Regions from separate parts of the Homo sapiens genome. Here all the other regions are linked to region 1. Evidence: fine-mapped expression QTL. A gene starts in region 1. Each other region holds a variant in brackets. All regions are shown on one strand. Distances are between the middles of the regions. Region 1 holds the start of SHROOM2 (shroom family member 2). Region 2 overlaps SHROOM2 (shroom family member 2). Region 3 overlaps SHROOM2 (shroom family member 2). Region 4 overlaps SHROOM2 (shroom family member 2). Region 5 overlaps SHROOM2 (shroom family member 2).

What was found. PIP is the estimated chance that this variant, and not a neighbour inherited with it, causes the effect. A credible set is the group of variants that fine-mapping cannot tell apart.
Region 2: its variant is the best candidate, but not a certain one, in a credible set for the expression of SHROOM2 in lung (TOPMed, PIP 0.61).
Region 3: its variant is the best candidate, but not a certain one, in a credible set for the expression of SHROOM2 in sigmoid colon (GTEx, PIP 0.78).
Region 4: its variant is the best candidate, but not a certain one, in a credible set for the expression of SHROOM2 in fibroblasts (GTEx, PIP 0.90).
Region 5: its variant is the best candidate, but not a certain one, in a credible set for the expression of SHROOM2 in sun-exposed skin (GTEx, PIP 0.68).

The regions. Positions count from the first base shown.
Region 1 is chrX:9,782,568-9,788,679 of GRCh38, reverse strand. SHROOM2 (shroom family member 2) reads right to left here and starts at 2,251. Exons shown (of 10, transcript NM_001649.4): 1 at 1,970-2,251. The coding sequence starts at 2,134.
Region 2 is chrX:9,934,744-9,940,855 of GRCh38, reverse strand. SHROOM2 (shroom family member 2) reads right to left here. Exons shown (of 10, transcript NM_001649.4): 7 at 3,171-3,722; 8 at 1,490-1,661. Among named protein-coding and RNA genes, the nearest start is that of CLDN34, 30 kb to the left of the region's middle. RefSeq lists enhancers at 1-209, 294-1,493. The variant GC/C (reference allele first, on the strand shown) is at 2,744.
Region 3 is chrX:9,845,308-9,851,419 of GRCh38, reverse strand. All of the region lies in intron 1 of SHROOM2 (shroom family member 2), which reads right to left. Among named protein-coding and RNA genes, the nearest start is that of SHROOM2, 62 kb to the right of the region's middle. The variant G/A (reference allele first, on the strand shown) is at 2,675.
Region 4 is chrX:9,904,474-9,910,585 of GRCh38, reverse strand. All of the region lies in intron 5 of SHROOM2 (shroom family member 2), which reads right to left. Among named protein-coding and RNA genes, the nearest start is that of CLDN34, 60 kb to the left of the region's middle. The variant C/T (reference allele first, on the strand shown) is at 2,770.
Region 5 is chrX:9,944,174-9,950,285 of GRCh38, reverse strand. SHROOM2 (shroom family member 2) reads right to left here. Exons shown (of 10, transcript NM_001649.4): 9 at 5,373-5,645; 10 at 843-3,615. The coding sequence ends at 3,349. Among named protein-coding and RNA genes, the nearest start is that of CLDN34, 20 kb to the left of the region's middle. The variant C/T (reference allele first, on the strand shown) is at 2,477.

The DNA of each region.
Region 1 (6,112 bases):
GACCCAAGCAGATGGCACTGACTGAAGGGGAGCAGCAGGCTTGAACACTGGGGCCAGAGTCTGATTCTTAGGGCCTTTCCCAGGACTCAACAGTTTGTGACCTCAGGATACACCATTTGCCCTGCCTGGGCCACAGCTGTTTCATCTATAAAATGGGCTGATAAAATTCCATCTGAAGACCAGGACCGAACCAGCCTTGTTCTTGACACCCCTCCCAGTTCTACTACACGCACTCCCATGAGGCTTTCAAATGATACCCTCATTATCATAAAGAGAAGGTGCGCTCTTACCTTAATGCAAGCTATCCCCAAATCAGAGTCTGCTAAATAGCAAGTGAGTTGTACAGTATTCCAGGGCTCTAATATGTAACTATTTAATTACAAGTGGAAAAAAAAAAACGATTAGAAGAGCTATTTTTTAATGAGCCCCAGTGACTTTTCAGTAGCTTTTGGGAGAGGAAGATTCAAAGCTTGGATTAATCCACATTCTGAGCCAAGCGCAGTGGCTCATGCCTGTAATGCCAGGACTTTGGGAGGCAGAGGAGTTCGAGACCAGCCTGGGCAAAATGGTGAAACTCCCCGTTTCTACAAAAAATTTTAAAAAATTAACCAGGCATGGTGGCGCACATCTGTGGTCCCAGCTACTCAGGAGGCTGACAGAACAAGACCCTGTCTCAAAAAAAAAAAAGAAGAAAGAAAGAAAGAAAAGAAAAGAAATAAAAGAAAAAAAAAAGAGGAGTGTTCTGGCTGGGCAGAGTATACACACTTTATGACTGTCCACCATGTTTCCAAAGAAGCCAGTGTGATAAAAGATTACACATTGGTCAAATTTATAACAATGGCAACCTCTTTCCTGAGTTCAACAAAAATTTAGTGCAAAGCTAAACAAGGCTTCTCCAAATCCCTCCACAAAGTTTTGTAATCATAAAAGCGACAGAAAATATAGAATGGAAGACGCTGGTGTCTCATTTGCTATTTGAACAACAAAGCCATCCCACTTCCCAAACTGATTACCAGTGCGGCGGGTTAGGAATCACTTAATTTCTTCCTGCTGTGGAGAGGCAGGAAAGCCGAGAAAACCAGTAAATTATCTTCAAACGCTTCTAGTCGCCAAGAATCTTTACATTTTAAAAGGAACTTCGTCCACACGAAAGGTCCGACTCAACCCTTCCCAGAGAAAATGACCACTACACACTTTTAACTAGAACACAGGGTGACTGGACTGTTGTTTATGTGTTTGCTTTTACAAGTTCATACAGGTTCAACTGGTAAGTTTCCAGATGGATTTTGTTTTGAGACAATAAAATTCAATGTTCTAAAGCAAACCACACACACACACACAACATTCCTGATGAGATACATCTGGAATTTCTTTATTATTATTAGAACTCGGGTCCTGCTCTTAGGAAGCAGGCTTTCAGGTTTCTCTAAGTTTGCGCAGGTATCCAGTGCGCAGTGGATCTGGGACTGGAAGCCGAAAGTCAGTAAACATTGATGGGCTGAAGGGAATCGAGAAGTTGCGCTGGCGACAGCTGCTACTCTGGATTTCGTAGTGATCACAGGCACGGGTCCAAGGGGTGCCGAACCAGGGACCCCAGAGAGGCAAACATAGGTGGGGACGGCTCGGGGACACGTTCCTTCGCTGGCCTCCAGGCAGCCCCGCAGGTGCAGGCCGCCACTGGCGGGCCCGGGAGCGCCAGAGGACCCGGCCAGGCCCCTGCCCGGAGGAGGGAGGGGGAGGGGAAAGGGACTCCGGGCAGGAGCCATTTAAACTCTGCGAGGCGCGGGGAACCGCCAGGATCACACGCCCACGCCGGTCCCGGCGCCCAGGCCCGGCAGGTGACCCCAGCAGACGCGCGCGCCAGACCCGGGGGCGCGAGCCTACCGCCCCTCCCGCGCCCCTACCTCGACGCGCCCCGCAGGGCGGCCAGCTCCCGGCTGTCAGCGCCCGCGCCCCGCGGCCGCCTTACCTTGGTGATGACCAGCGGCTCGCCGTGCTCGCGGCCGCCCTTCAGGGTGAAGCCCCACGGGGCGCCGCCGCTCAGCTGCACCTCCACCAGGCGCCCGCCGTCCGCCGCCCGCGTCTCGGCCTCGGCCAGGCGCTCGGGCCGCGCGCGGGGCTCGGCGCCCTCCATGGCGCGACCGCTCAGCGTCCCTGGCCCGCGCCCATGCACTCCGGGCAGTCCCGGCCGTGGGATCGCAAGGGAGGCTCCGAGCGCCGCAGAACTTGCGCCGTAACTTGGAAAGAAAGTGCCGGCCCGGCGGCGGAGGGAGCCCGGAGGGCTGGCGGGGAGGGGGCGGGGCCGGGGCCGGGGCCGGGGCCGGGGCTGGCGGGGAGGGGGCGGGGCCGACGGGGGGCGGGGCGGGCGCGTTCGGGAGCTCGTACCGCGGGGCCGGTCACGGGGAGCGCGTCCAGAGGTCCAGCCCGCGGCCCGAAGGGTGAGGGACGGGGTCAGGTGCGCGCTCAGGGGCCCACGCGGCCGCTCGTACCGGGGAGAGCTGGAGAGGGGCGCGCCCCGGTTCTCTCGCCCGGTGGAGGGGAGCGGGCCGGGAGGGGCGCTCAGGCGCGCGCGCCGTTCAGCGGGTTCGGGGTCGGGGTCGAGGAGCGCGCGCCCCGGGGCTGGCGGAGCCAGCGCGGGCGAGGACGGGGGCGGAGGCCCCGGCGCCAGGTCGGGCCTTTCCTCCCGCGCCAGAGCTCTGCAGTGCTTCGAAGCTCTGGGCGCCCCCGCCCGCCGGTTGGAGGCCAGGACCGGGCAGGTGAGGCGGCAGGTGAGATGGGCGCGGGGTGGCGTGGCGGGAGTCTCCGGCCTCCTCCGTCTCGGGGCGCGCGGCCCGCCGGCGCCCACACTTTGTTCTCGCGCACCGCGGGCTGCCGCGCAGGTGAGAGCGGAAGCGCCGCGGGAGGCCCTGGTGCCCGCGCTGTGGCCGCTGCCCCGGGGCAGAGGGACCGCCCGTCCCGCGCGGCCCTGCGCGCACTCACACTCTGGACTTAGAGAGCCGGGAAGGGCGCCCCCCAGCAGCCTGAGCCGGGCGCGGGTCCGGCCTCTGGAGGGGCTTGGAAGGCGGGCGCAGAAGGACCGTGCCCCGTTTCCACGAGGGCCTTCCCACCTTCCCGCAGAGGCCTCCCACAGCCACCGCGCAGAAAGCCGTTGCGTCTAGATGCTGTCCCCACTCGCCTAGGATTGGACCACAAGGTCTTCAAGTTTCCCAGGTTTACATCCCCGAAAAGGGGAGGTGGAGGTCTGGGATTGGTGAAAGTTTGCGGACAACATGTGTGCCACCTCTTCCTGCTCGGTTTCAGTTTCCATGAAACTCTGGTCTAAAGTACCTGCATGGATAGGTATTTACATGCTTTGCAAAAAAGCTGTTTTCGTTGCTGTTTCTATACGTAGCTGAAGGCTGGTGAACACCTCTTTTCTCTAAGCAGCTCCATCCAGGCCCTTTTCAGAGGTGACGATGCTGGAGTACGCATCCAGGACAGGCCGGGAGAGCACTGGACAGAGAGTCAAGGGTCCCCGGGTCTGGGTTCTGCCACTGTCAAGCTGGGACAAGAAATCTCAGCTCTGGTCTGTTTCTTCAGAGGTCAAGTGAGAGGGGTGCATTCTGTGGAGGTGTCTCATGCAGCCGATTAAATTCAGAGTCGCAGCTCCACTGGGCACCTGTCATGGCGCTGGGCACGTGGTGACTGCCCCATAATTAACTTCTAACTACAGTCTCTGAATGCCTTTAGTTAGAAGAATGAGGCGATTTTTTCTTTTTCAAAGATTAAACGAAGGCTTAAGGAATGTGCCTCTCAGAATCAAGTCGAGTGTATCTTCACTGTGGTGATGGTCACAGGAGCTGCCAAGTTGATTAAGCTAAATTGCACAGAACTAAATGCACGTGAAACGGGAAATCTGAAAAGGCTTGGTGGATTGTATCAATGTCCATATTCCAGGTTGTGACATTGTGCTGTAGTTTTGTAACGTGTTGCCATTGGAACAGGCAGGTGAAGAGTGAAGGGTGCACAGGACTTCCCTGTATTATTCCTTACCAAGAGGCGAAGCCAGTTGGGTGGGGACTCCGAGAATTTTTCTGTCTTACAAGAGGATTGTAAAATGCACCAATCAGCGCTCTGTGGCTAGCTAGAGGTTTGTAAAATGGACCAATTAGCACTCTGTAAATGGACCAATCAGCGGGATGTGGGTGGGGTCAAATAAGGGAATAAAAGCTGGCCACTGCAGCTAGCAGTGGCAACCCGGTCCAGTCCCCTTCCATGCTGTGGAAGCTTTGTTCTTTCGCTCTTCACAGTAAATCTTGCTGCTGCGCACTCTTTGAGTCTGTGCCACCTTTAAGAGCTGTAACACTCACAGCAAAGGTCTGCAGCTTCATTCTTGAAGTCAGCAAGACCAAGAACCCACCGGAAGGAACCAACTCTGGACACATTACAACTACATGTAAATCCAGTTATCTCACAAAGTTTAAGAAATGGATGGATATGATAAACCAAAAGATAAAGAGCTGTATAAATATACCCAGTGTGCTTATTAGAGTTTGCAGACATGTCCGTCTCCCAAAACAGCCCACTCCCTACCTCCCCACCCCAAGCTGGTATAGACTTCAGTCTAAGCTCTTACCTGGGGCTAAAATTCAGACCACTAGACTCATTATAAAGCAGAGACAGTGATTTCATTGTCTCCATAAATCCAGCATTATTCTATATAGCCCCAAAGTCATCTTTAACATTTTATGTTCACCGTACGTAATCATTGTCAGATTACCCATCTGCCACTTGAAAGGTTTATACTTTTTAAAAGGACTCCCTTGTTCTTAAACTTAGCTAGAAATTTACATCCATCCTTACTAAACAGTGTTTAGCTGGGGTGTTTTGTTTTTTTAATCTTCACATTAAGCATCCATCTCAGGATGGTTGGAATATTTATAAGGCTGCTGTCTATAATGATGTTATGCTGTAAGGGACTGAACCAAGATTTGTGTGGCCTGCTATGAGACAGGTGCCTGCTCAGTCATAAATCCTTTTGTGATATTCTTGGGGTTACTATGGTCTAGGTGCGATGACAGCACTTCTATATTGTGTTTGTTTTGTCATCACAAGACACTGTCAATAATCTTGTGAAAATATATCTTGTGGCTGAAAGGCATCACCCCAGTTGATCAGTCTTGCACCCCCATTGGGAGAGTTTTAGTATGACGTTGAACCAGTGTATGGACTCCTAGTAGATGGCTTTCTTTTCTGAGAACTCACAACTCAGGTGGAATTTTCAGAAGCAGAATCCATTTGTCCATGTTAGTCTTTTGTCCTTTTGGAAAGCTGAGGGGCATGTTTGTTCTGTGTAATTTCTCACTGTGGTTGTTCATTGCTCAGAGAATAGGGTGAGCATATACTCTCTTCTGGACCTGCAAGGAGTGTGACCCTATGAGCGCCTGCCCCGGGGATTCAGTAGCCTTAGGTGTTTGTTTCACTTTTTCTTTTTCTTTTCTTTTCTTTTCTTTTTTTTTCTCTTTTTTTTTTGAGACAGAGTCTCACTGTGTCACCCAGGCTGGAGTGCAGTGGCACGATTATGGCTCACTGAAGCTTGACTGCCCCAGGCTTAGGTGATCCTCCCACCTCAGCCTCCTAAGTAGCTGGGACTATAGGCATATGCCACCATGCCTGCCTAATTTTTTATTTTTTGTAGAAACAGGATCTCACTAAGTTGTCCAGGCTGGTCTCAAACTCCTGGGCTCAAGTGATCCACCCACCTCAGCCTCCCAAAGTGCTGGGATTACAGGCATGAGCCATTGTACCTGGCCACTGTTTCTTTTTCTTTTTTTCTTTTTTTTTTTTGGAGACGGAGTTTTGCTCTTGTCGCCCAGGCTGAAGTGCAATGGTGAGATCTTGGCTCACTGCAATCTCTGCCTCCCAGGTTCAAGTGATTCTCCTGCCTCAGCCTCCCAAGTAGCTGGGATTACAGGCATGCGCCACCTTGTCCAGCTAATTTTTGTATTTTTAGTAGAGATGGGATTTCACCATGTTGGTCAGGCTGGTCTCAAACTCTTGACTTCAGGTGATCCACCCGCCTCGGCCTCCCAAAGTGCTGGGATCAGGCGTGAGCCACCGCACCCAGTCCCCG
Region 2 (6,112 bases), 150 kb before region 1:
AGACAACTGTGGTCGCCCTGGGAATGTTGGAAGCCTACGGAATTAGGGTCTCATATGTTCCCCTGAAGCAGCTACAGAGCAGGTGGCCTGCTAAGTCCCCATCTGCGCTATGCTCGCTTCCTCCCTGAACACGCCTCCGCCTGTGCACGCGTTGCAGGAATGTGCGACATCATAAGCGTGTGGCTGCGGGAAAGCAGGGAGAAAATGTAATGCAGCAGTGGCCGCTTTGTCCAATCAAGCAGGAAAACAGGACCGCTGAGTCATCAGCACCATAGAGAGCTGGGATGTACAGCATGTGCTTCTGGTGCAGGTGCCCAACTCACACTTGCTGAACTAAAGTGAGGCCAACTTCCAGCCCACAGTGACTCACTCAGTTCCGGAGCCACACTTCTGGTGAGGCGGCTTCCCAGCATCTCCAGCCTCCCAAAGCAGGTGGACAGAGTGCCCCACAGATGAGGGCGGCAGAATCAAGGCATGCCGCTTCTGAAATTCATTATATCATGAAAAACAAAGGCATGCGAGCAAAGAATGCAGTTCTCTAAACCTAGGGTGTGACCCAAATTCAAATGGTCCAGATGGTATGATTTTCCTGGTTCTGTGTGGAAAAACCGAACATGTTTTGGATTCTTTATTATTTTTTAAAAGAGGAATGTGCAACCAGAATGAAGCGAATGGTACCGTGTGCCAGATGGAGGGCCCGTAAAAGCCCCAAGACCTAAACCCTTAATTTTCATTTCCCTTTTTAATACCTTGAACCAAAAAGTTACCATCTTCCAGCCCGGAAGCAGTGGCTCACGCCTGTAATCCCAGCACTTTGGGAGGCTGCGGTGGGTGGATCACTTGAGGTTCGAGACCGGCCTGGCCAACATGGTGAAACCCCATCTCTACTAAAAATACAAAAATTAGCAAGGCTTGGTGGCAGGTGCCTGTAATCCCAGCTACTCGAGGGGCTGAGGTAGGAGAATTGCTTGAACCCGGGAGGCAGAGGTTGCAGTGAGCTGAGAGTGTGCCACTGCACTCCAGCCTGGGTGACAGAGGGAGACTCTATCTCAAAAAAAAGTTACCACTTTCTAATTTGAAAATAATTTTCCTTTATCTGAGGCAGGGGGATCGCTTGAGGCCAGGAGGTCAAGGCTGCGGTGGGCCATGATTGCACCATTGCACTCAAGCCTGCACGACAGAGCAAGACCCTGTCTCAAAAATAAATAAATAAGATAAAATGAAAGAGAATGGTGACTAAACTAATTTGACATTGGATCCTATTGAAACAGCAAAGAGACGTTTGTGGAATGGCTCAAGATTAGGACATAGAACTAACAACAGAGGGCTTCACTAATATCACCTCAAATTCCACTGTCCTGAGTGAAAGCTGAACACAAACGCCCTGGGACACGTGGTGCAGGGTCTGCGCTGGGGCAGGATGGTGTGATCCGGATGCCTGCCCCTGCCTGGACACGCACACGCTGTCATTTGGAATGGACTCTCCTACCTTCTTCACCGACAGGTCGTGGTCCAAGTCGCTTCCCGAATCCTCTTCGTGCTCCTGCTGCTCCTGCAGGTCCTTCATCTTGATCAGCAGCTCCGCCTTGGGGGCCGACGTGCTGTAGTAGGTAGAATTGGTGGCCAGGGACACGGCCGCAGGCACGCTGGGCTCCTCTTTCCTGGGTAAAGGTGTGGGAACTTCAATGAGCTGGGACTGTGCACGCAAACAGCCCCTCTGCCCCACCCCCTGGGTTGTGACAAATCAACACTGGTGCTCACGAAAGGACACCAGCCAGGGAGATGAGACAGCCAAAGGGGGAAAAGTAAGTAGGTAACAAGGTTAAAACTAAAAACCATCAACCCTGTCAAATGGATACTCGTAAGTGTATGAAACATAGTTTTTAAAAAAGGCAAAAACTCAAATAAGCAGGAATATCTAAGAATCTCTGCTACAGAGGTGAGAGCACAGATGATCTCTACCAGGAGCCTGGGTTGATGAGGACAAGGACATGTGTGACGCTATCTACAAACACCAACCCTTCTCCCTTCCTCCCAGCAGCCCTGTCGGCGCCCTCCTGCCTGGGTCCACTTGGTCCAGCTGCTCCTCCTTGGCTGTGTGTCATACCCACTCCACCTTCCTACCCATGAATGACGCTGTGCTGGCAGAACATATGTCAGCAGCAGGGAAGATGCCACCACGCATGCCTTTGTGGTCAAGTGGCTGAAGGAGATACGCTGAAAGTGCTACTTACAAAACCAATTAAAATACATTTGTTCAGGCAGGTGTAAATTGTCGTAATTTTTTTTCATTTCTATTTCAAGAGATGGGGTCTTACTCTGTCACCCACACTGGAGTGCAGTGGCACCATCATAGCTCACTGCAGCCTCCAACTCCTGGGCTCAAGTGATCCTCCCACCTCAGCCTCTCGAGTAGCTGGGACTACAGGTGTCTACCACCACGCCTGGCTAATTTTTTGTACTTTTTGTAGAGACTGGGTTTTGCCATGTTGTCCAGGCTGGTATTGAATTCATGGGCTTAAATGATCTGCCTACCTCGGTCAGCCAAAGTGCTGGGATTACAGGTGTGCACCACTGTGCCTGGCCAAATTATAATAAATTTTTTAAATGCAGATGTAAAAAAATTTCAAATAAAGTTTTAAAAAAACATTTCATAAAGAAACACATATATATTCAATCTAAGCCTTCATTCTCATGTTGGCACTAGGGACACGTGGGGGCTGGATGACTCTCTGTGGGGGGG[GC/C]CCTCCTGTGCACTGTAGATGTTGAGCAGTGTTCCTGGGCTCCACCCACCAGATGCTTGGAACACCCCTCCCCACAGTGACATTGCCAACTGTCCCCCAGGGTAGACAGCGGCCCCCACTGAGAACAGCTGTCTTACGAGAAAGGAGACCTGTGGGCATCATCAGAAATCCTGCTGGCCTCAGGCCAAGGCAGCTTGGTGGTCTGCAGTGTGTATTTTCATGTCAGGCCCAAAGCCGTTAACCCTCCATTTCTCTTTCCGGAGGCTCACAAAAAAGCCAAAAAGTGCTAAGCATCGAGGAGCCCTTATGAAAACCCGTCTTCCCCAAAAGCACGCATGAAAACAGAGAGGCAGACCCCCTTCCCTTTACAAGCCTAAGAGATGCCAGGCAGAGTCACGCCCAAGCTGGGAGGCCACGCCTACTCACCTCTCCTCTGTGCTTCTAGGAGAGGGGATTTTGGGGAGCAGCTTCCTCCGTTGCTGGGCTTCTTCCAGGAGGTGCTCGTCTTTGGGGAAGATGCCTTCCATCAAGTCCATAGTGGTTTTGATCTTCACACTGGGATCCAGGATGTCGGCCAGGGACTTATCCTTCCCCACGATCTCCCTGGCCAGCTCCTCCGACTTCAGGTCTTCCACAGTCTTCTCTTTGGCCTTCATGTAGCTGAGCCCTGGAGGGGAGGTGCAGCGGTCTTTCTCGGGGGGCACCTGGGTGCCCAGGGGCTGGGGCTCAGCCGGCTGGGCCCTATGTGGGGCCTCGGGCTCAGCACCCTGCCGCGTGTACAGACAGAAGCGCGAGTAGAACTGCTCAGATGTGCTCAGCGTCTTGATCTGGTCTTTCTCCAGCCCGTGGGGCAGGGCAGGTGGCTCGGCGGGGCATGCCAGGCTCTGGCGGCTCTCCTTCTCTGGCTGGCTCTCCGAGTGCACGATCTTGATGGGCACCATCTTCACCGTGGTGTTGTTGTCCATCACCCGCTCAATTCTGGAAGATGAACAGTCTGCTGAAATCGCAAAGCATGCTCCAGCCACAGACCCTGATTGACGTGTCCCCTGCCCTCCCCTCTGGATGGGAACCTGACTCAAAGGCACTAGCCAGCCACCCAACTCGAAGGAGCCTCCATGATCCCACATCCTGGATGAGGCAGAGGCCTCAAGAAGCTCCCTCTGACTCCTACCTCCGCCTTCCAACCACAGCATCCTTTCTATGCTCAAACCGCCAATGCCACCCCTGAGGCATCCCAAGGTGTCCTCCAGGGGTTCGTGGAGGGCTGTGAGGACTATTTAATACCATTTGTCATTCCGCAGATGATAATGCAAACTTCAACAAGCCCTGTTGGGTTAAATGTTCTTTTGTAGGGGAAGCCTGCAGTGGATGGGCATTTTCCAGGATTCCCATCCGTCCTTAGGTTGGTGCAGGCCCGCGGGTTCCTGCGTAGTTCTCAGGGCCTGGGGAGGGCTCCTCTCCGGAGTGGCCGTGCTTGGAGTCAGGCCAAAGCCCCCCACCACCCCACTTGGGAGAACCTCCTGTGCCATATGCAGGACAGCCCACCCAACACTGTCCTTGTACCCCCCGCCCGCTGTGCTTCAAGCTAGCGTTGCACAGATTTGCACACCAGTGAGATACGATCTCGCAGTAAGCAGCGAGTCATCGGTTCTGTATTACTTCCAAAGGGCACAGTTTTGCTTTTTTTTTAAAAAAGTGTCAGCCAGATGTGGTGGGTCATGCCTGTAATCCCAGCACTTTGGAAGGCCGAGGCGGGTGGATCACTTGTGGTCAGGAGTTCGAGACCCACCTGGCTAACATGGAGAAACCCTGTCTCTACTAAAAATACAAAAATTAGCCGGGTGTGGTGGTGCGCACCTGTAATCCCACCTACTCGGGAAGCTGAAGCATGAGAATCGCTTGAACCTGGGAAGCAGAAGTTGCAGTGAGCTGAGATCAGTGACCTGAGATCACACCACTGCACTCTAGCCTGGGCAACAGAGCAAGACTCCATCTCAAAAAAAAAAGAAAAGTTTCTGGATGAAAGGGACTAGAGAGGTACCTAAAGCATCCCTGGGAGACTGGGGGAGAGAGAACAGGAGGAACAGGCCCAGCAATGCCACAGTCCCTTGTCTGGGGCAGCCCTGCACCTGCTGCTCTCAGCGGCACCGTGCTAGACCATGCTGACCAGGGCCATCTCAGCCAAGAGCTTTTCAGAGCACTGGAGAAGCAGCCCCATATGCTGGTGGTCAGGAGGGAAGCAAAAAGAAACAGGCCAAACTCCACAACCCCAAATTAGGATGTGTTTCTAATGAAGTCAACCCAAAACTGCCCCTACGATGTTACACAAATGTATCCAATTTTCCACAGCAGGAGGGCAGCCACGATGCTCTAAATTTAATGCTGTTTTTCCCTCTTTCACTGGTGACTGGGAATGCAGGAGGGCTCTTTCCCTATCAAGGCAGTGGTGCTCAGGCTGAGATGAACTAACTGCGTATTTTCCTCCCTCTCTCCAGTAGGGTTCAGCAACATCTGATGTGTTTTATCTAGGGACTCACAGACACCTCACAACTGCTTCCTCATGAAGACAATTTACAAAGTCTAACTGTGGAAAATACCATTTAGATAGGTCAGACTTATGAAGGAAAACCCTGGCTAGGCACAGTGGCTCACACCTGGAATCCCAGCACTGTGGGAGGCTAAGGTGGGAGGACTGCTTGCGCCCAGGAGTTTGAGACCAGCCTAGGTAACACAGTGAGACCTCCCCACCTCTCTGTTAAAAACATAATAATAATAAATAATAATAATAATAATAATAATAAAAGAAGGAGGAAAACCTGGCCACCTTATCCAAGCACCAGCAAACGCAGAACCCTCTGCACTCCCTTCACCCCCGCCCCCCCGGCTCCCGGGAGAAGCTCTGCTTGCCTATTACTGACTTTCACATCAGCCTGTATTGGTATCCTCCCCCTTTTGTGCAGAAATTTGATGTGCACAATAGAAACAAATTAAACAACATAAACAAATCTCCCTTCACAGGTTTTAAAATATTGGGAAAGAGGCTGGGCCCAGTGGCTTGCCCCTGTAATCCCAGCTCTTTGGGAGGCTGAAGCAGACAGATCACCTGAGGTCAGGAGTTTGAGACCAGCCTGGCCAACATGGTGAAACCCCGTCTCTACTAAAAATACAAAAATCAGCCTGGTGTGGTGGCAGGTGCCTGTAATCCCAGCTACTCGGGAGGCTGAGGCAGCAGAATCACTTGAACCCAAAAGTCAAGATCGCACCACTGCACTCCAGCCTGGGCGACAGGGAATAATAATGATAATAATATAAAATACAGTACCGGGAAGGAAAAAAAACAAATCTCCTATCTCCCACGGGTTCACATA
Region 3 (6,112 bases), 63 kb before region 1:
CATCATATTACAAAAAAGGTACTGTTGCCACGTGGGGAACCTGGGTACAGGACCCATGGCATCTCTCTGTATTGCCACCTGAAGCTATAATGATCTCAAAATAAAAAAAGAGGCCAGGCATGGTGGCTCACACCTATAATCCCAATACTTAGAGAAGCCAAGGCAGGAGGACTGCTTGACGCCATGAGTTCAAGACCAGCCTGGGCCACATAGCAAGACCTGATCTCTACAAAAATTAAAAGCGTTAGCCAGGCTTGGTGGAGTGTGCCTGCAGTCCCAGCTACACAGAAGGCTGAGGTGGGAGGACCACTTGTGCCCAGGAGGTGGAGGCTGCAGTGAGCTGTGTTTCTGCCACTGCACTCCAGTCTGGGTGACAGAGTGAGACTCTGTCTCTAAAAAAAGAGAGAGGAAGAGATGAGACTGACAAAGAGGGGATCATAAGGCCACGCTGGTCTACCAGGGGCTGGAAACAAAGGGATCTGGCTGACTTCCGGAAGGCTGTGGTGAGAGGCAGGGGCCCTCCCATTAAGACTTATCAATACCAGGGTACAAGTTTTTCTGTTTGTTTTCTCTTTTTTTTTTTTTTTTGACACAGAGTCTTATCCGCTAGCCCAGGCTGGAGTGCAGTGGCACGATCTCGGCTCACTGACCTCCTGGGCTCAAGTGATCCCCCCACCTCAGCCTCCTGAGTAGCTAGGACTACAGCTGTGTGCCACCGCACCTGGCTAATTTTTGTATTTTTTGCAGAGACGAGATCTCACTATGTTGCCCAGGGTGGTCACGAACTCCCTGAGCTCAAGAGATCCACTCGCCTTGGCCTCCCAAAGTGCTGGGATTACAGGCGTGCACCACCACGCCTGGCTTAGGTCATTTTCATAAGGACATGGGGTGCCACAGAGAAGGGGCATATGAGCCAGGAAGCCAAACAACAATGCTGGCCCGCTGTACAACTGTGAGGAGAGGGCGAACTCTCATGGAGCAACCAGGGAGCAGGCCGCTAACTCACTTCATAACCTGAAGCGACTTTTTGGAAAGATTAGAGAAGTGACTATACCAAAGCTGCAGTGATGTGGCCTGTCAACCAACCAACCAATTAATCAATAAAAGAAAATGACAGCCAACCAATCAATAAAAGAAAATGACAGCTTGTAGCAGAAAAGCAGGCATGTAAGAAGGTCAGCAAGTGGGCATCTCCGCTGGCTGGCCTTTGGTCTACACAATGAGCAGCGCCCCCGGGTGCTGCAGACGGGAATGATCCCACAGAGCTGCCACGCAGCCCAGCCTGGCCCCAAGATGCCCAGCAGGTATGAGAGGGACAATACACACCCAAGGTTCAGGGTGCTCACCTCAAAAGTGTCAGTCTCCGCTCAGGTGCAGCAGTGTTCTCTCCTTCAGTTCTCCCCAGTGTGACAGCAGGAAACCACTGTCCCCAATCCTCCCCACCAAAACAGTATCTGAGAGGTACCTGCTCTGCTTCAACGTGTTGTTAAAAACTGTACAGCAACAGGCACTCTCTTAAATACAATCTAATGTATCCATTCCTTGCTAAATTGCATGCAACTATTTTGATGCCTTTTAAACTCAAGAAAGAGTATCCTATCTTGTCTGCTGGTGTTATCTTCATTGTACCTACAAGCTAGGGAAGAGATTGGCAAAGTTCTCTGAAATTACCTAGAGCTAATGTGATGAGGAAACTTCTTCCCACAACTGCCTCCTTCTACCCCAGAGCGAGATATCTGGACAGGGCATGTGTGGTGGTGGGGGTGCTCAGCCCTACATTGATGGCAAAAGGTTCTTGATCCAGGAGCAAATAAAGACATGCTCTAAGGCGACGTGTAAAGCTGCCTGCCATCACCCCAGAGGGATGGACCCCAGGAGCACTCAGCAGAGAGGAAACTTTGGTTACTGCTCAAACTCCTAGCCACGCCCGCCCAGCTTAGCAAGTGCCACAAGGCCACCAGCACCCCCATAGGGAAGCTGCAGCCCTGGTCCCACATGGGCAGCCTCTAAAATCAATCCCATGGAAAGGTTTGTTTCAGGGCGAACTGTGGGGAGGAGTCTGGGGAAGGAGGGCAGAATGTGCTGCAGAGGGAGGAGAGATCAACAGGAGGTGAAGCAGAGGTGGGAGTACACAGAAGCTCCCACATGGACTGCTCCTGCCAGCCGGCGCCTGCTGTCTCTCCTCCCAGCCTCTGTGCTGAGGCACAGAGATCCACGCTCCCATCTTCCTGGGTCCTTGGGTGCATCCAGGAGGGCTTGCAGCACTCCTACACCATCTGCCAAAGGAGGCCGCCCTGGGATGCTCCAGACTATAGATTCCCAGATAGGCCACAGCAAGGGAAGCAGGAGAGAAGCTCGGTTTCCGACACAGTGCCTTCCAGGAGACCCACGGGTGAGTCCAGCTGTACTGTTAACTCCTGGAGGATGCAAACGGTCGCTCTGGGGTGGGAATGTTTACCTGAGTGGACGGTTGTTTGCTCTGGCCCTTTAGGTGAACAAAGTGGATGAATGGAAGGGAATCCAGGCATCCCAGGAGTTCATAACACAATGTTCTTCACGGAGCGCTGCACTCACGCAGGGCACCAGCTGGTTCTCAGCACACGTTACTATTGAGAGCTTCCCCTAACCCTGGCAGATACACCTGCATGTCCCCATCTTGTCGATAAACTGATTC[G/A]GGAAGCTAAAAAATTGGCCAAAGGACAGACACTTTATTCGTCCCAGAGATATGAGGTAACATGCTTAGGGCTGCATGGCTCATTACCGGCAGAGCATAAATCAGCACATGATAAAGTCTCCTCCTAGTTCCTCTCCTCACATCCCCGTATAAAGAGAGTTTTATCTCTAGACATGTAGAACTTAAATACTTAGATACTTAGAACATGCTTTTCTTTTTTTTTTTTTTTTTTTTTGAGACGGAGTCTCGCTCTGTCGCCCAGGCCGGACTGCGGACTGCAGTGGCGCAATCTCGGCTCACTGCAAGCTCCGCTTCCCGGGTTCACGCCATTCTCCTGCCTCAGCCTCCCGAGTAGCTGGGACTACAGTCGCCCGCCACCGCGCCCGGCTAATTTTTTGTATTTTTAGTAGAGACGGGGTTTCACCTTGTTAGCCAGGATGGTCTCGATCTCCTGACCTCATGATCCACCCGCCTCGGCCTCCCAAAGTGCTGGGATTACAGGCGTGAGCCACCGCGCCCGGCCATGCTTTTCAATACATACCTGACTTGACTTCAGCAACATATCAATAGCCACAAGGGATACACAAATTCAGGTTCCTCGATGGCCTCAGTATACAGTGGGGAATCTGTAAACGTGGATCTGCAAATCTATGCAACATGTTTTGCCTGTTAATCCACACAACATTCGCCCTCAGACATGGGGAGTATTGACCTGCTGAGAATATAAGCTTTTCAGGTTGTTGGTAAACAGGCCCTGGAGTGCCATATCCATAATCTATTTCTCCATCTTCCCCTTCCCTGGGCATAGCAAGTGAGCAGCCACAGATGCAAAGGATGAAAGCAAAGAGAAACAATAAAAAAGTGATAACTTTGTTACAACACGAGTAAATCAGAGGGAAAAAATCACGAGAAAAGGACTGGCCAACACTGTAAGTGTCCAAGAGACTAGGGAATGTTGTGTAGAGCTGTTTCCACATGTAACTCAGCACAAGCATTTAGGCATTACCAGAATGCAGACTCCAAAAGTGCTAGTAAGGATAACAGCAATACGTAAAATAAGTCCTAGGTCTCATTCATATTTTAGGACTGGCCGAGGCTTACACTAGGACTTCTTAGGACAGGACACTTTATGCAACTGGCCGTTTTGCAAGCTATTCTCCCAATAAAAGTGTTTCCCTCATTCATTATTCCTCCAACCCCCTTTTCCCTCTGATTAGAGTTCAACTTATCCAGACATCCCCCTAACACTATGTCTCTTACATTCGTCGGAGCTGATAATCTGGAGAGTATGTTGACATTTTCCAGCCATATTTGGATTCGCACAGCTATTGTGACAACCACTAAAAGTCCTACCTTCCTTTGGTGTGCACTGCATTCCAACCCAGCACGGTTAGTCATTGCAAAAGACTGTTTATGACACAGCATTCTCATCCGTCAGGCACGGCCTGGTGCCGGAAAGGCCACTGTAGCAGTCACCCCTCTTGTAATAAAAACAAAATCCCCACCAATAAAAGGCCAATAGAGTTTGTGGTACAACAATTTTGAGGTTTAGTTCCTCTTCACTGGGGTTGAACATTATGAGACTGGTTTGCCGGCCTCATTCTAGAAAGAGGTTTGTCGGGTTTCATGGATACTGAGCTAACACCAAGACAAGCACGGAATAATAACAATGGCTAAAGGCTTTTGGAAACCAAAATGAGAAAACCAGCAGATCGAAGATGATATTCTGGTGGCTGAATTGTCCTTTCAAAAGGTGGGCTGTCTTAGAGCCCAGATTTCACCTATGAGACTCGTCTCAAACCTTCATAGCCATCAGAGCTGGTGGCAGCAGCCAGCATGCGTCCCCGTGCTCCATGAAACAGCTGCAAAGGGACTGTGGGAAAACAAGGAATTCTCTGGAAGGCAGACGCCAACCACAGATCAGCCAAGCATGGGCTCAGAGGCGGCACAGATGCCAAATCCATGTTCAAAATGGCTCATCTCTGGGGAAAGATGAAAGAGACGATAGGAAGGTCTTAACCTTCCTTAGCCACTAAGAATTCTTTAGAAAAACACACAGACTGGAGGCAGTGGCTCATGCCTGAGGTCAGGAGTTCGAGAGCGGCCTGGGCAACATATCAAGACCCCATGTCTATAAAAGATAAAATAATTGGCCGGGTGTGATGGCTCATGCCTGTAATCCCAGCAGTTTGAGAGGCTGAGGCAGGCGGATCACGAGGTCAGGAGATTGAGACCATCCTGGCTAACACGGTGAAACGCCGTCTCTACTAAAAATACAAAAAAATTATCTGGGTGTGGTGGCACGTGCCTGTAGTCCCAGCTACTCAGGAGGCTGAGGCAGCAGAATCACTTGAACCCGGGAGGCGGAGGTTGCAGTGAGCTGAGATTGCACCACTGCACTCCAGCCTGGGTGACAGAGCGAGACTCCGTCTCAAAAATAATAATAATAAATAAAAGAATTAGCTGTGCGTGGTGGCATGCACCTGTGGTCCCAGCTACTCAGGAGGCTGAGGCAGGAGGATGGCTTGAGCCCAGGAGTTTGAGGCTACGGTGAGCCCTGATGGCACCACTGTACTCCAGCCTGGGCAACAGAGTGAGATCCTGTCTCAAAAACCAAAACCAAAACCAAACAAACTGAGGTTCACAGCAACAAAAATGAATAAACTACAACTGCCACCAGAAACAATATGAATGAATCTCACAAAAGTAATGTTGACTGAAAAAGCTAGACACAAAAGAGTCCATACTAGATGATGCTATTTATATAAAGGCCAAATAGAGGCTAACCTCATCTATAGTGTGGACATTCAAGACAGTCCTATATTTGGGGGGTTGGGGAGGCTCAAGGGCACCCCTGGGGAGCTAGAACATTCCTAAAACATAAATAGGAATGTTCCATCTCTTGATCTGGGTAGCGAGTTACATAGCTGTGTTCATTCCACAAAATGTAGAGGAAGGGGTTGCGACACTGCAGCTGCCAGGAATTATGTTTCTCAACTCATGAAGAGGGACTGTCTGCAGCAGACGGGGTGAGACCAGAGAGGAGCAGAGACGGACAGAAAGGAGGGTGACGGGAGCCAGTGTGGGCTGGTGTGCGCAGAGGTGAGGGCCAGGTCCTGGCTCTGAGTCCTTTGTCTCTGGAACTACCACTCCCCTCATCCTGCCCAAGTAGATACAATAAAAGCCTTTATTTGTTTTCCAGAAAAAACAAAAAGGTGGGTGGGGGTGGGTGACAAGGTGGGATGGGAGATGCTAGCTTGGAATGACTCCCCTGCCATTTCAAAAGTGAGCTGTTCCAGCAGGAAGCAGGGGGAGAAGTTATGGAGAACTGTGACCCCGGCTAACTGCTCAGGCTGGCTTCTTGTTCAGGTTTACTGGGTGGGTCTAAATCTCTCGAAAACATTCTTTAGCAACACAGCGCTTGCTAAACAACAGAGT
Region 4 (6,112 bases), 120 kb before region 1:
CTCAGCCTCCCAAAGTGCTGGGATTACAGGCGTGAGCCACTGCACCTGGCCAGGGTCTTGCTATGTTGCCCAGGCTGGTCTCAAACTCCTGGCTTCAAGCAATCCTCCTGCCTCAACCTCCCAAAGTGCTTGGATTACAAGCATGACCCATTGCGCCTGGCCAGCATCTCATTTTAGAATGGGTTTAGATTTACTAAAAAATTGCAACAGCCAGGCGAGAGCTCCCATATGCCCTCTACCCACTTCCCCCTATTATTAATATCTGACTTACTATGGGGTGTGTTTGTCATAGTTAATGAATCAATATTGGTACATTAATATTAACTAAAGGTCACACTTTATTCAAATTTTCTGTTTAATCAATGTTCTCCTTCTGTCTTTGAACCTCATCCAGGTACTGCATCATACTCAGGCCTGCTTCTTCAGACTCCTCTTGCTGTGAGGGTGCTATAGCTTTAGACTGAACACTTGTGCCCCCCACCCCCAAATTCCTATGTTGAAACCTAACCCCCAGGTGATGGTGTTAGGAGGTGGGGCCTCTGGGAGGTGATGAGGTCATAAGGATGGAGCTCTTGCGAATGGGATTAGTGCCCTCATAAAAGGGACCCCTGAGAGCTCCCTCTCCCCTTCCATCATGTGAGGACGCAGCAGAGAGACAGCCATTTGTGAGCCAGAAAGCACCTTCACCAGACACCGAATCTGCCAGTGCCTCGATCTTAGACTTCCCAGCCTCCAGAACTGTGACAAATACATTTCTGCTGTTTATAAATCATATAATCTTAGGTGTTTTATTATAGCAGCCTGAATAGGCTATGATAGTTTCTCAGGCTTTCCTTGTTTTTGATGACCTTAATAGTTTTGAAGAGGTCTGTTCCGGCATTTTGCAGCATGTCTCTCAATTGGGAACTGTCTGATGTGTTTTTATGATTAGCCTGGGACTTCTGGGAGAGAGACCATGGAAGTGAAGTGCCACTGTTATCCTATGATATCAAGGGGCATGCTGTCAATGTGACTTACCTGTCAACGTTGGCCCTGATCGCCTGGTGAAGTTGGTATACACCAGTTTCTCCACTGTGATGTTCCTCTCCTCGGTCCCCTTTGCCACACTGTACTCTTTGGAGGGAGCTTACTGTTGGCAGCCCACACTGAGCGGGGAGCGGGGGAGCTATGCTCCACCTCCTTAAGGGCACAGTAGCTACATAAAGTATTTGCAATTTTCTGCACAGCAGATTTCTCTATTCTTCATTTGTTAATTTATTCAACCATCCTGCGTATCAGTCTGGGCTGTGGATTCATTTTATATATTGGATTATAATCCACTACTACTTAATTTTGCTGCTTAACTTGTTCTGCCTTTGGTCATTGTTGGTTCCTGTGTCCCTATGACATACCCACACTGTTGTCACCGCTGGGTTTACATATGGGTGTATTTGAGCGCTTATTTTCTGGCACTATAAGATACTCCAGGCTCATCTTGTACAGTCCCTGCCCCAACCCTAGACTCAGTCATTCCTCTGAGGAGCCCTGGTTCCTTTTATTGGAGAAAAGCCTTAGAAAACAAGTTCTGCATGCTGGCTGTGCTCTAGGAATCCTGTTTTTTTATTTTTGTTTTTATTTATTTATTTATTTATTTATTTATTTTTGAGAGAGGGTCTCACTGTCACCCAGGCTGAAGTGCAGTGGCACCATCATAGCTCACTGCAGCCTTGACCTCCCAGGCTCAAGCGATCCTCCCAATCCAGCCTCCCAAATAACTGGGACTACAGGTGCACCACCATGCCCAGCTAAATTTTTTTTGTAGAGATGGGGTCTCACTATGTTGCCCAGGCTGGTATTGAACTCCTGGGCTCAAGCAATCCTCTCAGCCTCCCAAAGTGCTGGGATTATAGGCATGAGCCCCTGTGCCTGGCCTAGGAATCCACTCTTAAAGGAGACCCTCCAAGAATTCCTTCTAAACAGAAAGCACATTTATAATATTAAAGTTTATAATGTGGCTTTCCAGATACCCATGTTTCTTAGAGCGAGGCATAATTATCAGGGCTTATAAGATGCTCAAATCTTTTTGTAGATTGTATAGTATAATACTATTAAGACTTTAAAATCATAATCATTGTAACAAAATGCATACAAATCTGCTTTTAATTGACACAAAACATTTGTGCCCTTGAAAAAGTCCACACATAAAAAAAGAACAGAATGAAATCACCACCCTAGTACCCTTATGTTCTGAAAGAACTTCCTCCTCACCTCTTAGTCTTGGTGAAACCTTGAACTTTTCTGAGTCACTTTCCATGAATTGAGGGGCATGCCCAGCCCATGTGGTCCAAGGACAACCTTCCCTAACCCAGGCTATCACTAACAAGTCAGAAAAGCTGGTGCTCCAGCATCCTGCGTGCTCCTGCATTCTTGGGCTGTGAACAAGCTACAGCCCCCTCTACTTGGACAAAGCAAACTTCCCCAAGTTAACCACACTAGGGATGGGGAGATGGATATCATGTTGCAAGATAATCGCGAACTATTACAAAGAAGCCTCTTTGAAAACATCCAGACAGACTGCCACTGGGTTCCATGCTCCCTGTGCTGGAAGCACACTCATGTAAGACCATCCCTTACACCCCTCCACTAAGCCCAACATGGTCGGCAAGCAAACCTTTGTGTAAAGGACCAGATGGCAGATATTTTCAGCCCTAGGAGCCATCCGATCTGTTGCAATGACTCAACTCTCTGCCATTATAGAGAGGGAGCAGCCACAGGCCGCCTGTGAGCAAA[C/T]GGATGTGGCTGCATGCCAATAAAACTTTATTTAAAAAAACAGACAGGGGGCCAGAGTTGGCCTGTGGACCATAGTTTGCTAACCCCTGACTAAAGCAATGATTACACAATCCTTTCCTCTGTTGAGTCATCAATATCTGCTTCCCTAGAACTCGAAACCAGTGAGTCTAGGGGTGCTTTATCATATTCTTCCAAGTAGAGAAGAAAGTTGCTCTGCTCCCCCAGGAACTTGTTTCCAAGTGACCCTGACCTAGACCCCTCAACCCTTTACCATCTGACACCACCCGATTTGGGTGAGCTGCTTGAGAGTGTCGCACAAACCATGAAACCCAAACTCTGCAGATGATTCCGGAAGTGATCTGAGGAAGGATGGGATGCAGGTGTGTGGGATTTGCTTAGGAGAAGGGGAGCCGGGAGGGTGCTCTGGTGCATACAGTGGGCAAACACAGAGTGGAGAGCGGCACGGCAGTGTGGAGACTTTCTATTCAGAGACACAGCCTGTGTTACACCGGCTCCAGTTCTGCTCAGGGAGCCACAGGTAAAACTACCTGTGCCTGGTAAACAGGAGGCAGGGCTGACTCACAGAAAGAAACAAATGACTTGAAGGAAGGGACCAGGCGAGTTCTGCAGAGGACATCCACATACCTGACTCAGAGGTTTCCTTGTCTTGCTTCCTGCTTTAGGGCAGGGCAGGAAGGAATGTGGAGAAGCGAAAGGCCCCTGTGGCTGCTGGGTCCGGTGGGACAGTAGGGATGCTGCCCGCCTCCCCCCTGCCCCAACGCCAGGGGGACCAGCAAGGGCTGGAATCTAGCCAGAGTCCTCTTAGCAGGCCTGCAGGGAGGGCAACCTGGTCACCGTGTGGCTGCTTTTGCGCTATCACGGCAGAGCTGAGTGGTCGCAGCAGGGACACTATGTTCCTCTGAGCCAAACATATTTATCATCTCATCTTCCGCAAACTTTGTCAATCTCTGAACTACAGCTGCTTAATGCACAGACCCATTTTATTTATTTATTTATTTTAATTTTTTTTGAGACAGTTTCACTCTTGTTGCCCAGGCTGGAGTGCAATGGCACGATCTCGGCTCACTGCAACCTCCGCCTCCCAGGTTCAAGCGATTCTCCTGCCTCAGCCTCCTGAGTAGCTGGGATTACAGGTGACTGCCACCACACCTGGCTAATATTTTAGTAGAGACGGGGTTTCACCATGTTGGCCAGGCTGGTCTCAAACTCCTGACCTCAGGTGATCCACCCGCCTTGGCTTCCCAGAGTGCTGGGATTACAGGCGTGAGCCACCACGCCCTGCCTGACAGACCCATTTTAAATTAAAAAAAGTTTTCTTATGGATTCCCAGTGTTGAGATTTTTTTTTAAAGACTGAGATAAAATATATCATAAAATGTGCCCTTTGAAACAGCGCAGTTCAGTAGTTTTTAGTATATCACAGCAGTCACCATCACCACTATCAGATTCTAGAGGATTTTCATTACTCCAGAAAGAAACCCCACGCCCATGAACAGTCTCTCCCTCACTTCTCCCCTCTTAACCCCTGGCAGCCACTAATCTACTTTCTATCTACGGATGTGCCTATTCTGGACATTTTATATAAATGGCATCATACAATATGTGATTTTTATTTTTTTTTATTAGACTGCTAAATGTCTCTATATAAAATCTGTTTCCTTATTTTAATGGTTCTTAGGCTATAAAACACAAAACAAAATTTGCAAGTTATATGCAAGCAAAACTGTAAAGCTGATGTCAGGTCTATATGACAGGTGATGTGGCTTTGCTGAGCATAAACCATGATGCTCGCGGCCCAGGGCACTGCAGTGCCGCTGCTTCTTGGCCCAGCTATCAAAGTTTCCTGGGTGCCACAGAAGGACTCATCTCAGCCATCACTTTTGTTTCGACTAACAGGGCACAGAGCTCTGCTGGCACGGTACCCTGATGTTCTTCCTGTCCCTCATCCATGGGGAGCACATCATTTACAGGGGAGTCCTGAACTTACTCTTTACTTCCACCAAGGGAAACTGTGTCAGCACTGTGGTCAATGAGACTCCCACACACACATACACAGCCATGGTCTTGCACACCATCCACAACACTTGATTTAGATTCTAAGAGCTAGTATGGAAACGAACACACAAAAATTTAAACTGGCAAAGAGGACAGACATGTTCCCAAGGATGTGCTCCAAGTGCCACGTGCGAGAAAGCCCAAAGCAGAAATACATCACTGGCTCCCGCGCCGTCACCGCCCACGCGTCAGTCCTCCCTCGCCCTCCGGCCTTCTGGACTCTCCTGGCGTTGGAGGCGGTGGTGAGCTGTGTGGTATGCAGGGGCCTGAAGCGGGTTGCTCAGCTGGCCCGGTGGGATGCAGACCTGACACGTGCTGCTAGCTCTGGCGGCCTCCTCTAGGAATTCTTTGGGTTTGTGCAGATTTAAAAGACACAAAACTTGTGGGAATATTTGAATGCATTTTCTATTTATATTGAGAAGGAGGTGACTCAGAACTATTTCCTTTTTTATTTCAAATGTGTGGGCCTTCAGAAAACAGATGAGCTAAATCGATTTCTGAGACTAACTGCAAGGACCTAACTGCCACATAAGACACTGAATCTATGGGACTCTTAAGTCAAACTTTAAAAATGAACACATTGGCTGGGTGTGGTGTGGTGGCTCACCCTTGTAATCCCAGCACTCTGAGAGGCTGAGGCAAGAGGATCACTTGAGGCCAGGAGTTTGAGGCCACCCTGAGCAACATGGCAAGGCCTTCTCTACAAAAACTTTTTTTGTTTTTTTAATTAGCTAGGTGTGCTGGCGCATGCCTGTGATCCCAGCTACTCGGGAGGATCACTTGAGCTTGGAGGTTGAGGCTGCAGTGAGCCATGATTGTGCCACTGCACTCCAGCCTGGGTGACAGAGCAAGACCCTTTGAATGAATCAATCGGTTATCAATCTGTACAGCCTTCTGGGTGGATGTCTGTGTCACCTCAGCCCAATCTGGGTGGAGGACTGGACTAGGACACAGCCAAGAGGAATGGAGGCTGGAAGAAGCTAAAGGGGAGAATGGACATCTATGTTTCCAGGTAGCTCTCTGGAGAAAGGTGAAAGCCCCAAAGGATCCCGTAACATGCGAACGCAGCCAAGGTCGGCCCAGAGGCTGAGAGCTTTGAAGAACGCAGCCAGCTGACAAGAAAGGAGGCCAGAGGAGAGGCAGAGCAGAGCGGGGCTGCCACGTCAGCACGTGCTACGGGAGTCTCTCCCCCAAGAGAGGCCGCTGGGGGCTCCAGGGATGGGGCTGCTGGGAAACAAAGGGGCAGCTTTCCACAGGGCTGGATTCTT
Region 5 (6,112 bases), 160 kb before region 1:
CCAGGTGCACAACAGGATAAGAGCCGTATTCACAGCTTATGCAGCCGTGCTGTGAACCAAGCATGGCGTCTAAGCACACCAACATTTATCAACTCACTTGACCTCACAGCAGCCCATCTCCAATTACGAGAGAGGAGCTGGGGCTCACAGAGGCTGGGTTACTTGCTGTGGCCACACAACTAGCAGTGACAGAGGTGGCTTTGCTCCAGGCAACTTGACTCCGTGGTCCCAGCCACTTTGGTGCCACTCCATTATCAGTAGACACGAGGAGGCGGGCGAGATGGAGCCCATGGACAGCCCCAGTTCTTCATCCCTCCCTGTGTCCACACTCTGCCATGTGAATTTACGGTTCCTCCACTAAAAGGTGGAGCCTGTTCCACACCCTTTGGTGCCGGGGTTGGCCAGGAGATGTGCTTTGCCAGAAGAAGGTTAGCAGGTATGACAGGACAAAGCCAGGAGAAGCCCCTTTGTGACAGGGTGTGTTGTCTTGTGCCCCTGCCATGAACACATCCAGCCACACGGCTGGTCCCATGAGGAAGAGGAGAGGCACACAGCACAGAGCCCAGCCCGAATTAGCTCATCTACAAATTCATGAGCTAAGTCAATACTTTGTTGCACAGATTATTGCTGACATTTTACAGTTTGTTACACAGCATTACTGGGGCACCAGCTAAGTGATGCGACCTGGTCCCTGTTTCCTCACCACAAACCGACTAGTGTAAATAAATTACACACATATAATCAATCCCACGGTTTACTCAGATGGCTTAAGAATCTGACGTATGGTGAGGACATTCTTTTTTTACAAAAGCTGTAAAGTAGGTAAATCAAAGACATCTCCATTCACTTGAAGAGACACTATTTATTTTGTTACAGTCAAGCAGGATGATCTGTTGATAGGTGAGTGGTAAGTGTCGAGCATGAAATCTACACACATTTGCTGTGGTGGACTGAAGGATACAAGCCACAGGCCACCCCCCATAGGCAGAGCCCTCCACAGCCACACTACAAGAGGGCGAAGGAGCAGCTGCCACCCAACAACACCAGGGCCAACCATTAGCACCAGATTGATTTTCTATGAATAATACAACTAGATACAGAGTTATGGATGTTGACTCACTAGAATCTTTGGGTCCCCACTAACCAGACGTTTCAGAGGCAAACAGGGGAACTGACAGGACAGCTGGCTCTATGTGCTTTGCTACAAGGATACTCGAGCACGACGTATTGCTGTGTAGAAGAGAAAGTCCTAAAAAGACATCAAAAGGCTGAGTACAGACACCAATTGGATTATTCACATTTTACACACATATCATCAAAATGACCACAATACTGTATTTGAGGGCAAAGAATAACAGGTAAAAGCTCTGCCAAACAAAATACTCTGAAATTCCTTGGGTCGTCTCCCCGAGGGAGAAAGATGGGGGTAAGTGCACAGCCAGCTTCACCTTTTCAGACTGACCAGCATTCACGCAAGTGACTACCAGCTGGAGAGGAGGAGGAAGCTTCGCTGGCAGAACAGGGATTTTTCAAGTTAGCAAGAGCTTAATTTAACAGGAATACACACTTTTGGAAAGACATTTATCCTTTTGGCATTGGTAGGCTGCCAAAAAGGCGGTTTATTGCCTGCATCATTGAGCTTGCCAGTTTGGACTTGGCTCTATAGAGAATGCATTACCGTCAACACGGCCCCTCTGGCTCAGGAAGTGTGGATTCTAGTCTTTTAAGACATCTGTGTGTGTGCATCTGTGCACGCGCACGCGTCTGCTTTGGTAAGGCTGTGGTCACTGCTGCTGACAAAATGAAATCTCCATTCCACTGGAAAACTTCTTTTATGGGAATAAGGGGAAGTCAGGGTTAAAATGATCCGTTGATCCAACAAATGCCCTAATACGACCTAAACACGAAGTCACCCAAGGGATTCACTCACCATTAACATGCATTTAATTAAACATTTTTTGAAGAAATACACTGAATCTACAATTATTAGATAAAAATAAGTAAGTTATAAATTATAACCAAGCCATCGGCGGCTGAACGTCTTTTCGTGTGCTTGTTTGCCACGCGTGTATGCTCTTTGGTGAAGTGTCTATTCAAGTCTTTTGCCTGCTTTTCACTTGGGCTGTTTGTTTTCTTACTATCCGGTTTGAGAGTTCTTTGTACATCCTGGACACAAACCTTTTGTCAGATACACGATTTGCAAATATTTTCTCCCAGTCTGTGACTTGTCAATTGGGAACTGACAGCATGACAGTGTTTTCTTTTAACAAACCAGGCTCTCTTTAGAATCCTGCCATTTCAATCAAGGAAATGGGCATAGAATCTTTAAACTTCATGGCAGAAAAAGATCAAGCTCAGGAGCTGTGTAGTCCACGGGACCTCTGAAGAGGAAGGGGTCTTCCCGTCCATGGAATGTGGCCCTCATGCCATGCTAAACGATTTAAGGAGGAAACAATGGAAAAGTAGCCAATTATCA[C/T]GGACAATCATATGCATACAAAATACATGGGGGGAAAGTAACTGAAAAAATCTTCTGTTGGTCTTGAGAAACAGCTAACAAGCACATTACTACTGGACACGCTCTTAACCAAAAAATTTTACTTTGCAGAACAACTGTGATGTGAGGTGAGAAGGACTAAAGCTATTTGCCTGCTTGGTGCGTGACTGTGTTTTTTAAAGCATGCACGTTATTTCTTTAAGTGGCAATTTAATCTGAGAATGAGTGAACCCAACCACACAGGTGGTTCCTTTCACAGTTGGTTTTTAACCATTAGGAAACTATTCACCCTTCCAAAAAGTTAATAAATTATCATCATCATGATGATGATTTCTGCTGGGTCAGAGAACATCATTAGATAACAGAGACAAATGCTCACACTGTTGAACGAGCAGGGACAAAACCTGGCAGCCCATGCCTGGATGAATGACAAGAGAAGATGAGCACCAGGGTCCCCCTCTCATGCACGTCATGACGCGCTGGCTGCTGTCCAAGCAGTTGGCTCAGCATCTGAAGACGGGAGGAACAACGGGTTTCCCACTGACAGTGACCACTCGGCAGGCACCACAGGCCCAGCCCACAGCCCATGCAGTGGAAACTCACATCCAGCAGAGCCTGGTGTCAGGTGTAGTTATGTGTAAAGGAAAATGGCTCTCAGCAATCAAAGGGGAAACTAAAAAATTAAATAAATCATCCCACACAAACACAAAAGTTATTGCTTTTATAACAGCCTCTTTGCTATGGGAGAAGTCTCTTTCCAGGCCATGAACACAGATGGGGTCTTCACGAGTATCCTTGGGAACGGAGCTGGAGCTCGGAGGCCCCGTGCCCCTCCTCCACCGGGGACTGGTCTCTTATTTGCCCCTTTCGGGCTGAAGGCTGTCCAATAAGCACTTCAGCTGCTCTTCACCAAGGTGGATTTTATCTTCCAGCTCCCGCTGCTCGATGATGAGGGCCGACTTCATCTTCACGAAGTGCTCATAGTCCGCGAGGCTCTCCTCGCTCAGATAGTTGGCCAAAATGTCAAAGACGATGCGCTCGCGGCGGTCCAGGTTCTCCTTGAGCTCCTTGGCGTCCTCGTGCTGCTGGATCAGGACTCTCTGCTTCTCAAGCAGTGATTGCTGTTGACAGACAAACAAGCCTGTTGAGGACCAGGATGAAAGCTGGGGCACTGGCCAACCCTTGAAGACACTGGCAACTTGTGGGCTGGTCCCACAACTTATCGATGGAAACCCTGATGCCACCAGAGATCCGATGGGGTCCACACAGACAAACCCAGGGCCCAGGGCCTGGGGGCATGTGTCTCATGGTTGCAGCGGGCCAGCCTGAGGCCCCCAGAAGCCGCCCACAGGCCTCTCTGGGTTTCCTCTTGCTGTCTGAGCCTGACTCTCTCCCACCTGCCTCGAATGGTGAGCAGAAGAGTCACCAAGGGACTCACAACGACAGAATTCTGAGATGCTGCAAAGGGCAAAGGACTGCGGGGCCCTCTTGGCGTCAAGGTCCGCTCCATGGGAACACCGTGGGACAGCTGGCCACATGGGTGGACTCGAGAGGAATTCAGGGTAGGCTTACTAAATGCTCCTGGCAGGAGGAGGAGAAGCCCCCGAGCCTGCAGAGCATATCTGCACACAAGGAAGCCTGAGGGTGGAGAAGACGCAGTGCTGTGCACGGGTGTCGGCCAGCAGCCCCCTCGGGCACGGTGCCACCCTGACCTAGCTAGTTCCACGACACAGTTACTAAGCACTCGGCTGAGTGCAGAAGGGCACCGTCTCCAAGCCCAGCGCCAGGACAGCGTTCTGCGTGGCCCAAATCACCCTCACCTGGAGAAAGGGGAAGGGTGCTTCTTCTGCTCCCCTTCTGAGAGAGGTTAAGATGTTTTATTCATGATACAGATGAACATTCTGAAGGCCTGTTCTGTGCAAACAAAACTAGCTGTTTTACTGATATTTGGCCTATGAGGTAAAAGCCAACGAGGCAGCTATTATTTCTCTTGGTTCATATGTGAAAGGACGAAAAGACAGACCCACTGAGAAACGCCTTGAAGTTAGATGCACTGTCTGCTTCCTTCTAGACTGATACATGCCCTCTTGTTAAATCACAGCTACAACCACCACAAGAAAATAGCTATCATTGAGTACTTACGATCGTCAGCAGGCAGGCATGTCTGTTACGGACTTATACATGGTAAAAGAAAAGTAAAAACAACAACAACATGATTTTTCTAAGAAGAGACAATTATCAGTAAGAGTCAATAGGAATATCTAAAAAGATGTTAAAAAGAGGTAACAGTTCTTTGAGAAGATCCCGCAACCCTGCAGTCCAATGACGGTTCAACTCCCTGCATCTGATAAGCACCTTTTCCCCTCAATTAAAAGGAAGGAGGCCAGGCACAGTTGCTCACACCTGTAATCCCAGCACTTTGGGAGGCTGAGGTAGGCGGATCACTTGAGCTCAGGAGTTCCAGACCAGCCTGGCCAACATAGTGAAATCCCATCTCTACCAAAAAAATACAAAAATTAGCCAGGCATGGTGGCATGCACCTGGGAGCTCAGCTACCCGGGAAGCTGAGGTGGGAGAATCTCTTGAACCTCGGGAGGCAGAGGCTGCAGTGAGCCGAGATCGCACCACTGCACTCCAGCCTGGGCAACAGAATGAGACCCTGTCTCAAACAAACAAACAAACAAACAAACAACTAAAGAAATATAAAAGGAAGGAGAGGGTATAGAGCGTGCACTGTCTCGACAAGGTCTGCAGGAGGAGGTGGACAGGCCATGTGGAAGCTATGCTAGGCTCCAAGGAGCTGACTTTCACGACACTTGAAAAACAGCCTTCCCACGAGACCACCCCCCATTTCCAAGTCAGACGTATCTGCATTTACCCGATCACCGGGAGAAGCGCCGTCGTCCAAATTATTGAGGGCATTCTCCACCCGGGCCAGGCGGCCTGACAGCGACAGCAGGAGGTTCACCACTTTGTCCAGGTCTCCAATGAACATCCGGAACTTGTCAAACTCGCTGGGCTTGCAGACGCCTTTCACGATGGCCTCCACCTCGGCCCCCAGCACGGTGTTGGCCTGCACGTCCTCCAGCAGGCTCTCGCGGGCCTCCCGGAGCACCTGCAGCTTGCGGCTGATGCTCTCGATGAGCTCCTGCTGTTGGGCACGGGATGGCAAGGGAACACGGAGACACTGGTTAGGCCGGCCCCCACCCCGGCCACACTGCTCACTGCCACCTTGGCGCACCTACGTGAAAGGTGCAGCTGACCTGCGTGAAAGCTCACTTTTGCATCACCAAATAATAGGGGATTTATACGACTAAGGGAAAGAAGAATGACTCCTAATGGCACTATTGGCATTTAAAAATAAAATAAACCTGTTCTCGTTCTGTTCATGCCCTATTAGAGAACGTCGGAGTTGTGGCCCCGATGCTCGTCATGGTAGATGCAGTTTCAACCCATATCTTTGGAAGGAGTCACAGACCTATGTATTCTGTCCTTTGGAATTTTCTAATTTAAAGATTCACATAGAGAGAAAGTAGTGAGTCTTATGTCCAGCACCAAATTCCGTGATTAGTTATGTGTCCTGTACATATAATTATTGTCACTAGCAATTATTTTTAT